Linked DNA regions of Homo sapiens. The protein of the gene in region 2 interacts with the protein of the main gene of each other region in a pairwise test. Each region holds a gene or a part of one and is shown on either strand. Other genes may lie near its edges.

Evidence for each region.
Region 1: the proteins of CD40 (region 2) and INSIG2 interact in binary tests that used the Homo sapiens proteins (3 or more experiments, as listed by UniProt).

Annotation. Positions count from the first base shown.
Region 1 is NC_000002.12:118,105,471-118,108,483, forward strand, and holds part of INSIG2 (insulin-induced gene 2 protein), read left to right. Parts: intron 1-1,266; coding exon 1,267-1,433; intron 1,434-1,619; coding exon 1,620-1,719; intron 1,720-2,810; coding exon 2,811-2,852; coding exon of another isoform or gene 2,853-2,892; 3' UTR 2,893-3,013. UniProt on the Homo sapiens protein: Oxysterol-binding protein that mediates feedback control of cholesterol synthesis by controlling both endoplasmic reticulum to Golgi transport of SCAP and degradation of HMGCR.
Region 2 is NC_000020.11:46,116,963-46,121,113, forward strand, and holds the start of CD40 (tumor necrosis factor receptor superfamily member 5 isoform 1 precursor), read left to right. Parts: upstream 1-1,351; 5' UTR 1,352-1,381; coding exon 1,382-1,432; intron 1,433-4,151.

The DNA.
Region 1 (3,013 bases), on a different chromosome or scaffold from region 2:
TGTTTATTTCATAGGGAAATCAGAGCTCTAAACCTTTTCTTTGAACTTTAAGTATAATGACAGCATAACAATAAGAAAAGCTTTTCCAGAAGCATACCCATATGAACTGTAGGTTTCTTTTTAAATCAAGCCTTAACAAGGAAGGACCTTGAGGGAGTTGCCCACAATAGTCCTGAGATTCTGAGAAATAAGCAAGCTGGGTGTTTAGGATACTTGCTTGGTAGGGGTGGGGAAATGGTGAAAAAGAGTGTTAAAGGAAGTGGGAAATGGCTTCGTTGCAATTTCTTTTTTGGATTTCTCTATACGTGCAGCATGGTCAGTTTGGTGATACGTGTTCTCCCAAACCTCCCCCGCCTTCCCCAGTAGCTGGTTATAGAGCCAAGATGTGGCCTTTGGGACATAGATAATGCCCTTTTAATGACACTTGAAATTAATTCCTTTAGTGTAATCCTCTAGCAAAGAGATGAGAAAACTGAATTTGTAAAGCTTAATTTTACCCAGAGATTTTGGTGTAGAAAAGGGCCATACATTTGTGAATAGATGCTTAAGTAGGTGATGAAAATAAAATATCATTTGAGCAAACTGTCCTATACCAGAAAGTCTCAGGCACCAAAATAGCTTGGCAGGTTGTAAGATAATGTTCACTTCAAGGCTTTATCCTCAACAAATTAAAACTAGAACAGTTGACATAATAGAAAGGGATACTGTGTCCTTGGTACTCTTGTTTCTGAACTGCATTATTATAAAATGTGTCTGTCAGTAAATCATAGAGAGAATGTGGTACCCTGTTAAATAGCTGTCAACTCTTCTATTTTCAAGTTCCTGTACGATTCTCAAGTAATTCTAAACCTGTTGGAGAAGTAATATTGGTTTCCTTTTTTGCAAAAGTGTGTTCCTTTAGTGATACTTGTGTTCTGAGGCTTCCAGTTACATTTTTAGCAAAGAAAGCATTTCTTAAATAATGGGTAAAGCCTTATAATTGGGAATGTATGTAGACTGTTCTTTTTGTTTTGTTTTGTTTTTTGTTTTGGAGGGGTTACAGTTGGTAGGATCTATTGATTAATGTCTTTTGTGTATCTGGTATTGGGTAAATACTGGAGACAGTTTTAATCCCACCTAGCTTCATACATTGTACTAAGAGACTGAATGTACTTGAGTAGAAGCAATTAATTCCCTTCTCAACAGAGGCATCTCTTATTTAGAAAAATGAACAGATGATATTATTTGGTTACAACTTTTAAGATGACTTCTTAACACTGATCTCAGAAAGTGGATTTCGATAACAACATACAGTTGTCTCTCACACTGGCTGCACTATCCATTGGACTGTGGTGGACTTTTGATAGATCTAGAAGTGGTTTTGGCCTTGGAGTAGGAATTGCCTTCTTGGCAACTGTGGTCACTCAACTGCTAGTATATAATGGTGTTTACCAGTAAGTATTAATCCTTCAATTTTTGGTGCTTGTTTGCTAGATAAATAAATGATAACCGCTTTCAGAATTGAGATTATGAAATGAGGTTAGCCAGTTTAATCTACAGAGTAGTTTATTTTCATTGTAATTATCTTAAGTGTCATTGCAGTTCCTCTGTGGGTATTAAAGACATGTCTGTTATTCTAGATATACATCTCCAGATTTCCTCTATGTTCGTTCTTGGTTACCATGTATATTTTTTGCTGGAGGCATAACAATGGGAAACATTGGTCGACAACTGGCAATGGTAAGCTGATGCTCACTTTTCTGAATAAGATGTGGAACAAATGACAAGTTTTCTCTAAAAGGCAGTCCTTTAAGGGAAAGCAATTTGTGAAGACAACATTCTTTGATTGCTTTTTTGCACTTCCATTGAAATAAATCATTTGGAAGAATTTAATCACAGGTGTTTTAAAAGTTGAGGAGCCACTGGAGAGAAAAACTCAAAATGTGTTATGGATAGGGCAATATGATTTATTGACCATATGGGGGATATTAGTGGTTTTTAAAAAACTAATCTACAGGTCTCCCACTATATCAGAAAAGGACAGTTTTAAAAGTTAAAAAGGTCACTACTAATAAGTGTGTTGCTACAATAGGTATACATTAGGACCACCTCTAACAAATCAAGATGTTTGATCATTTTAGTGATGAAGGAAAAGGAAAAGGCTAGGGAGTGACATTCAGAGGCCACAGCAGTTTTATGAATCAGTGCTGTCACTTTTACCTTTTTAGCCAGGTTAGGAGAATTGAGTGACTTACTTTGCTGTATTTTTGGTAAAATAGCCAACCAATTATCTTACCCTGTTGGTTTCCTTTATTTTGAATTGTGGGTGTACATTTTTATAGCTGTACTTTAAAAATGTTGTTTTGACTGGAAGCTTTTGTTAATGTAACAGATTTTTTCCTTTATATCATATAGCAATTTGAAAATACAGTGATCTGAGTTCACCACAACAGCCCTATCCTTAAGTTCATGAACTATTCTTTGCTAATTTGCCTTATTGAATACTCAAAGAAACCTGCTTTGCTTCCTTTCGACATTAAAAGATTGATCTAAATTCTAAATCATATACTGCCACTACTTGCTTGTAATGCAGAAATCTCATCTTTCTCTTGCTTTTGGCTGTGGCTTTTTCACTTCCAGAATGTGAATTATTTTTTTCCCTGTCACATTTGTCATTTAATCATAGTAATTATGTAACTCTTGGATTATTTGAGGAATAAATGGGCACATAGTAATAAAATGTTCATTTTTAGAGCTTTTCAGTTTATTTGGAAGTTGCTATTCAAAAGAAGTCTTAATCTGTTAACCTTTTAACCTTTTAATTTTTGCAGTACGAATGTAAAGTTATCGCAGAAAAATCTCATCAGGAATGAAGAAGGCAAAAAATATCTTTTGTACAGAAAAGCAAGATGAAAAGGATGTGAAATGGTAGATATACCAACAAAACTTCAGACTGTAAAATTGCCAGGATGCAGTTTTCCCCTTGATTGGCGTGTGTGTATATATGGATAAATATATATATACACACACACAT
Region 2 (4,151 bases):
AACATACTTAAAGTGTTTTATGATGCCACAAAAGGCTGGCCCACTCTTTTTTTTTTTTTGAGATGGAGTTTTGCACTGTCGCCCAGGCTGAAGTGCAGTGATGTAATCATTGCAATCATGGCTCACTGCAACCTTGACTTCTTGAGCTCAAGCGATCCTCCTGCCTCAGCCTCCTGAGTAGCTGGGACTACAGGTGTTTGCCACCATGCCTGGCTAACTTAAAAATTTCTTTATTTTGTAGAGATGGGGGTCTTGCCATGTTGCCAGGCTGGTCTTGAACTCCTGGCCTCAAGCAATCTCCCTTTTTGGCCTTCCAAAGTGTTAGATTACAGGCGTAAGCCACCGCGCCTGGCCCCCACCTTTATTTTTATTTTTATTTATTATTTATTTTTTTTTTTTTTGAGACTGAGTCTTGCTCTGCCTTCGAGGCTGGAGTGCAGTGGCACGATCTCGGCTCATTGCAATCTCTGCCTCTGCGGTTCAAGCGATTCTCCTGCCTCAGCCTCCCGAGTAGCTGGGATTACAGGCGAACGCCACTACATCCGGTTAATTTTTGTATTTTTAGTAGAGACGGAGTTTCACTATGTTGGCCAGGTTGGTCTCGAACTCCTGACCTCAAGTGATCTGCCCGCCTCGGCCTCCTAAAGTGCTGGATTACAGGCGTGAGCCACCGCGCCCGGCCCCACTCTTAATAAATGCCTGTCTCCAGGTGCTGGGTGGGAGGTGGGATGGAATGGAATGAGGTGAGGACGCATGGATGCATGGATGAATGGATGGGAAGTTGAGACGACGCGCCCACACGAGGGAATTTCCTTTGAAAGAGAGCGAAATTCTGAGTTGGGAAACTCTTCCTTGAAACGCCTCCCCATACCCCAGCTGTGGCCTTCCCGTTTTCTGCGTGGTGGTGTGGGGGGAACTTCCTCAGGCCTCTCCGCAGTGGAGCCTCTTTCGGTTCTGCCAGGATACCTAGAGGCAGCGGAGAGCGGGGCAGGGAGGGGAAAACCGTGAGGGTCCCTGTGGCAGGCCCCAGCACCCATGGGATCTCTCTCCGGTCGCAGGAAGCAGGCTAGCTCCTAGCCCGCCTCGGCTTGGCCTTTGTGGGACCTGGGGGCAAAGAAGAAGAGCTGTCTCTGGGACCATGCCTCCTCCCGTACACAGCAAGATGCGTCCCTAAACTCCCGGGGGAATTAGACTTGTGGGAATGTTCTGGGGAAACTCCTGCGCGGTGAATTGCTGGGGGCTCCGCCCCCCCGATAGGTGGACCGCGATTGGTCTTTGAAGACCCCGCCCCTTTCCTGGGCGGGGCCAAGGCTGGGGCAGGGGAGTCAGCAGAGGCCTCGCTCGGGCGCCCAGTGGTCCTGCCGCCTGGTCTCACCTCGCTATGGTTCGTCTGCCTCTGCAGTGCGTCCTCTGGGGCTGCTTGCTGACCGCTGTGAGTTGTTTTTGCCCCGACCAGACGGGAGTTGGGAGTGGGGAATGAGAAGGAAAGGGAAGGAAGACTTCGGGGAAGAGGCCTTCCTGGCTGATTTTTGTGGGGGCAGGAGGGTGGGTGGGAGCTGGGCAAGGTGCCCCCGCTCCTGGCTGAATGGGGTGGGCTGCCTCTCTCTTCTCCCGGGCTGGGGTCCCGGGAGCGGCCTACAGGGGCCGCTCAGGGAAGGCACTGGCTGCCCAAGCGTGCCTAGACGGCCTGGACGGGTTTAGGGAGCCTCAGAGGCTGGCCACACAGAGACTGGTAGGGGGTTCAGAGGGCGGGAAGTGAGGCGGACCAAGGGAAGGGGCGGGTCTGGCCCGTTTCCTGTCCCCTTCTTATTGTGGACAGATGCCAGCCTCTGTAAGTAGTTATCATCTCCTTGCCAGCTGGGGCTGCCTTCTTCCAGGGCATCTTGTGGGAACAAGAGATGGGTGCAGAGGCCCAGGTACTTTTGTGAGAAGGCAAGGAGCTTTTAACATCGCCTTCCACCCCGAACCGTATCTTGGGTGTTCCAACCTAGGAGGAATCCCCAGGGCTTTGCCTTTTTCTCCTGAATTTAAGATGACATAGGAGACCCCTGGGGAGATGAACAGTTTATGGGACACAATAAAGGGTTAGGAGACCAGAGTTCTGGTTGGCTCTGACAGGGCTGGTGATCAGAGGGCTGGAGAAACCAGGGGTTTCTCCAGGCACCAGAGGGGCTCAGAGCCAACCAAGCATATCTCCGGGATTTTCAGAAGCCTACACTTGACTCACTTTTTGTTTAAATGTATTTTTGTAGTTCCTCATTCTGGAGGCTGGGAATCCCCCAAGTACCTGGCTCCTTCATCCCAGCCCCTCTGGCCTCCCCCTACTTTAGAGGGCTGTAGATTCCTGCCTGAAGCCTGGGCAGGAATGACCCATGGTATCAAGGAAAGCAAGGGAAGCAGCAAGGGAAGAGAGGGAGTGGGGAGGCTGCTTTGGTCCCACAGCTTTCACTTTCACCTGAAGCAATGGCTCTTAGGGAACAGGGAGGCAGGGGGAGGGCGGAGCTGGAAAGAGGTAAAGGGGGGCCCTTGTGGTAGGAGTGGAGAAAGAGCCAGAGGAGGTGGGGTGAAGGGTGTGATCCAGGCTTCTCAAGAGCAGAGTTTGCCCTCATAACTCCCAACTTTGGCTCCAGGTAGAGGCTGGGCTGTGACAACAATGTCAGAAGCTATCTATTGAGGGCTTCTTGTGTGTCAGGCTCTGAGCCAAACACTGCCTGTTTTCTTTGTCTGATTTCTCACAACTCCCCCATTATACAGATGGGCAAATTGAGGCTCAGAAAGGGGGATTGTCTTGCCAAAGGTCTCATAGCTAGCTAATGGAAGAACCTGGTTGTGAATCTACATCTGCATGATTCCCGAGCCTGCCTCTCAGATAGTGAGAGTCTCCAAGCTCTGGTCCTGAGCTGTTTTGTGGCAGAAGGACCAGAACTATGGGGAGTGAGAACTGGAGATTGACAGACTTTTAGGGGAGCGTTTTATTTCTCATGTGTTTGAAGATGGTATCAAGGACTTTCCTATCTTTGGGAGTGTGGGAGCTCCACGTTCACAGGATGGTGTCTTGCAATGAGCTGGTGGGGGGCAGTAGCCTTTTCTACTTCCTTTCCCATTTTGGGTAAGACACATTTCTGTAAGTAATTTGCTGAGATACCCAGGTTGAATGAGAGCCACCAGTTAGGTAGGATTCTGGACAGCCAGCCAGGTAGCCGGGCTGCTTGCCATATATCATGCAAGCAGAAACAAATGAATGATGATTAAAATTGCCATTTAATGAGCACCTACTATGTTCCTGACACTGTGCTAGGCCATATACATGTATTCTTTCTTATCTTCGTAATCCAACCTGCAGGGCAGGCATTATTACTCCCATTTTAGAGATAGAGAAACTGAGGCTAAGAGAAGCAAAATAACTAGTAAGTGTTACAAAGTCAGGACTGGAGTCTAAAGCTGTCTGACTCTCAAACTTGTGTTCTTTTCACTGGCTGTTCCCAAACTGTGGGACAGTTTTAAGGAGCACATGGACATAGAATTAAACATACACTTACTTTACAGTTCTTTTAAAAATCCTTCTCATTTTTTCAAAGAGGAAGTCTCTGGAGCTAGAATAGAGTTAATGCCTCTCAAAGGCTTGCTAATCCTTCTTTTAAAACAAAAATCAAGAGCAGGCCTGGGAGGGCCTTCAACAAGCAAACAACCAGCTGGGTTTTAATAACCTTGTTTTGTTTCCCCAGAATTTATTTTTAGGGTTACCTTTTATTTATGAGAAGTGATACTGGTTCTTGTCTCTTGGCAATGATGTGAGGTTTACATTTAAAGTAAATGTACCGGCCAGGCACGGTGGCTTGTGCCTGTAATCCCAGCACTTTGGGAGGCCAAGGCAGTCAGATCACTTGAGGTCAGGAGTTTTAGATCAGCCTGGCCAACATGGTGAAACCCTGTCTCTACTAAAAATACATAAATTAGCCGGGCATAGTGGTACACACCTGTAATCCCAGCTACTCAGGAGGCTGAGGCTGGAGAATTGCTTGAACCCAGGAGATAGAGGTTGCAGTGGGCTGAGATGATGCCACTGCACTCCAGCCTGGGCGATGGAGCGAGACTCTGTCTCAAAAAATAAAATAAAAGTATTGAAATTAACAATAAGTAATTAATAGCAT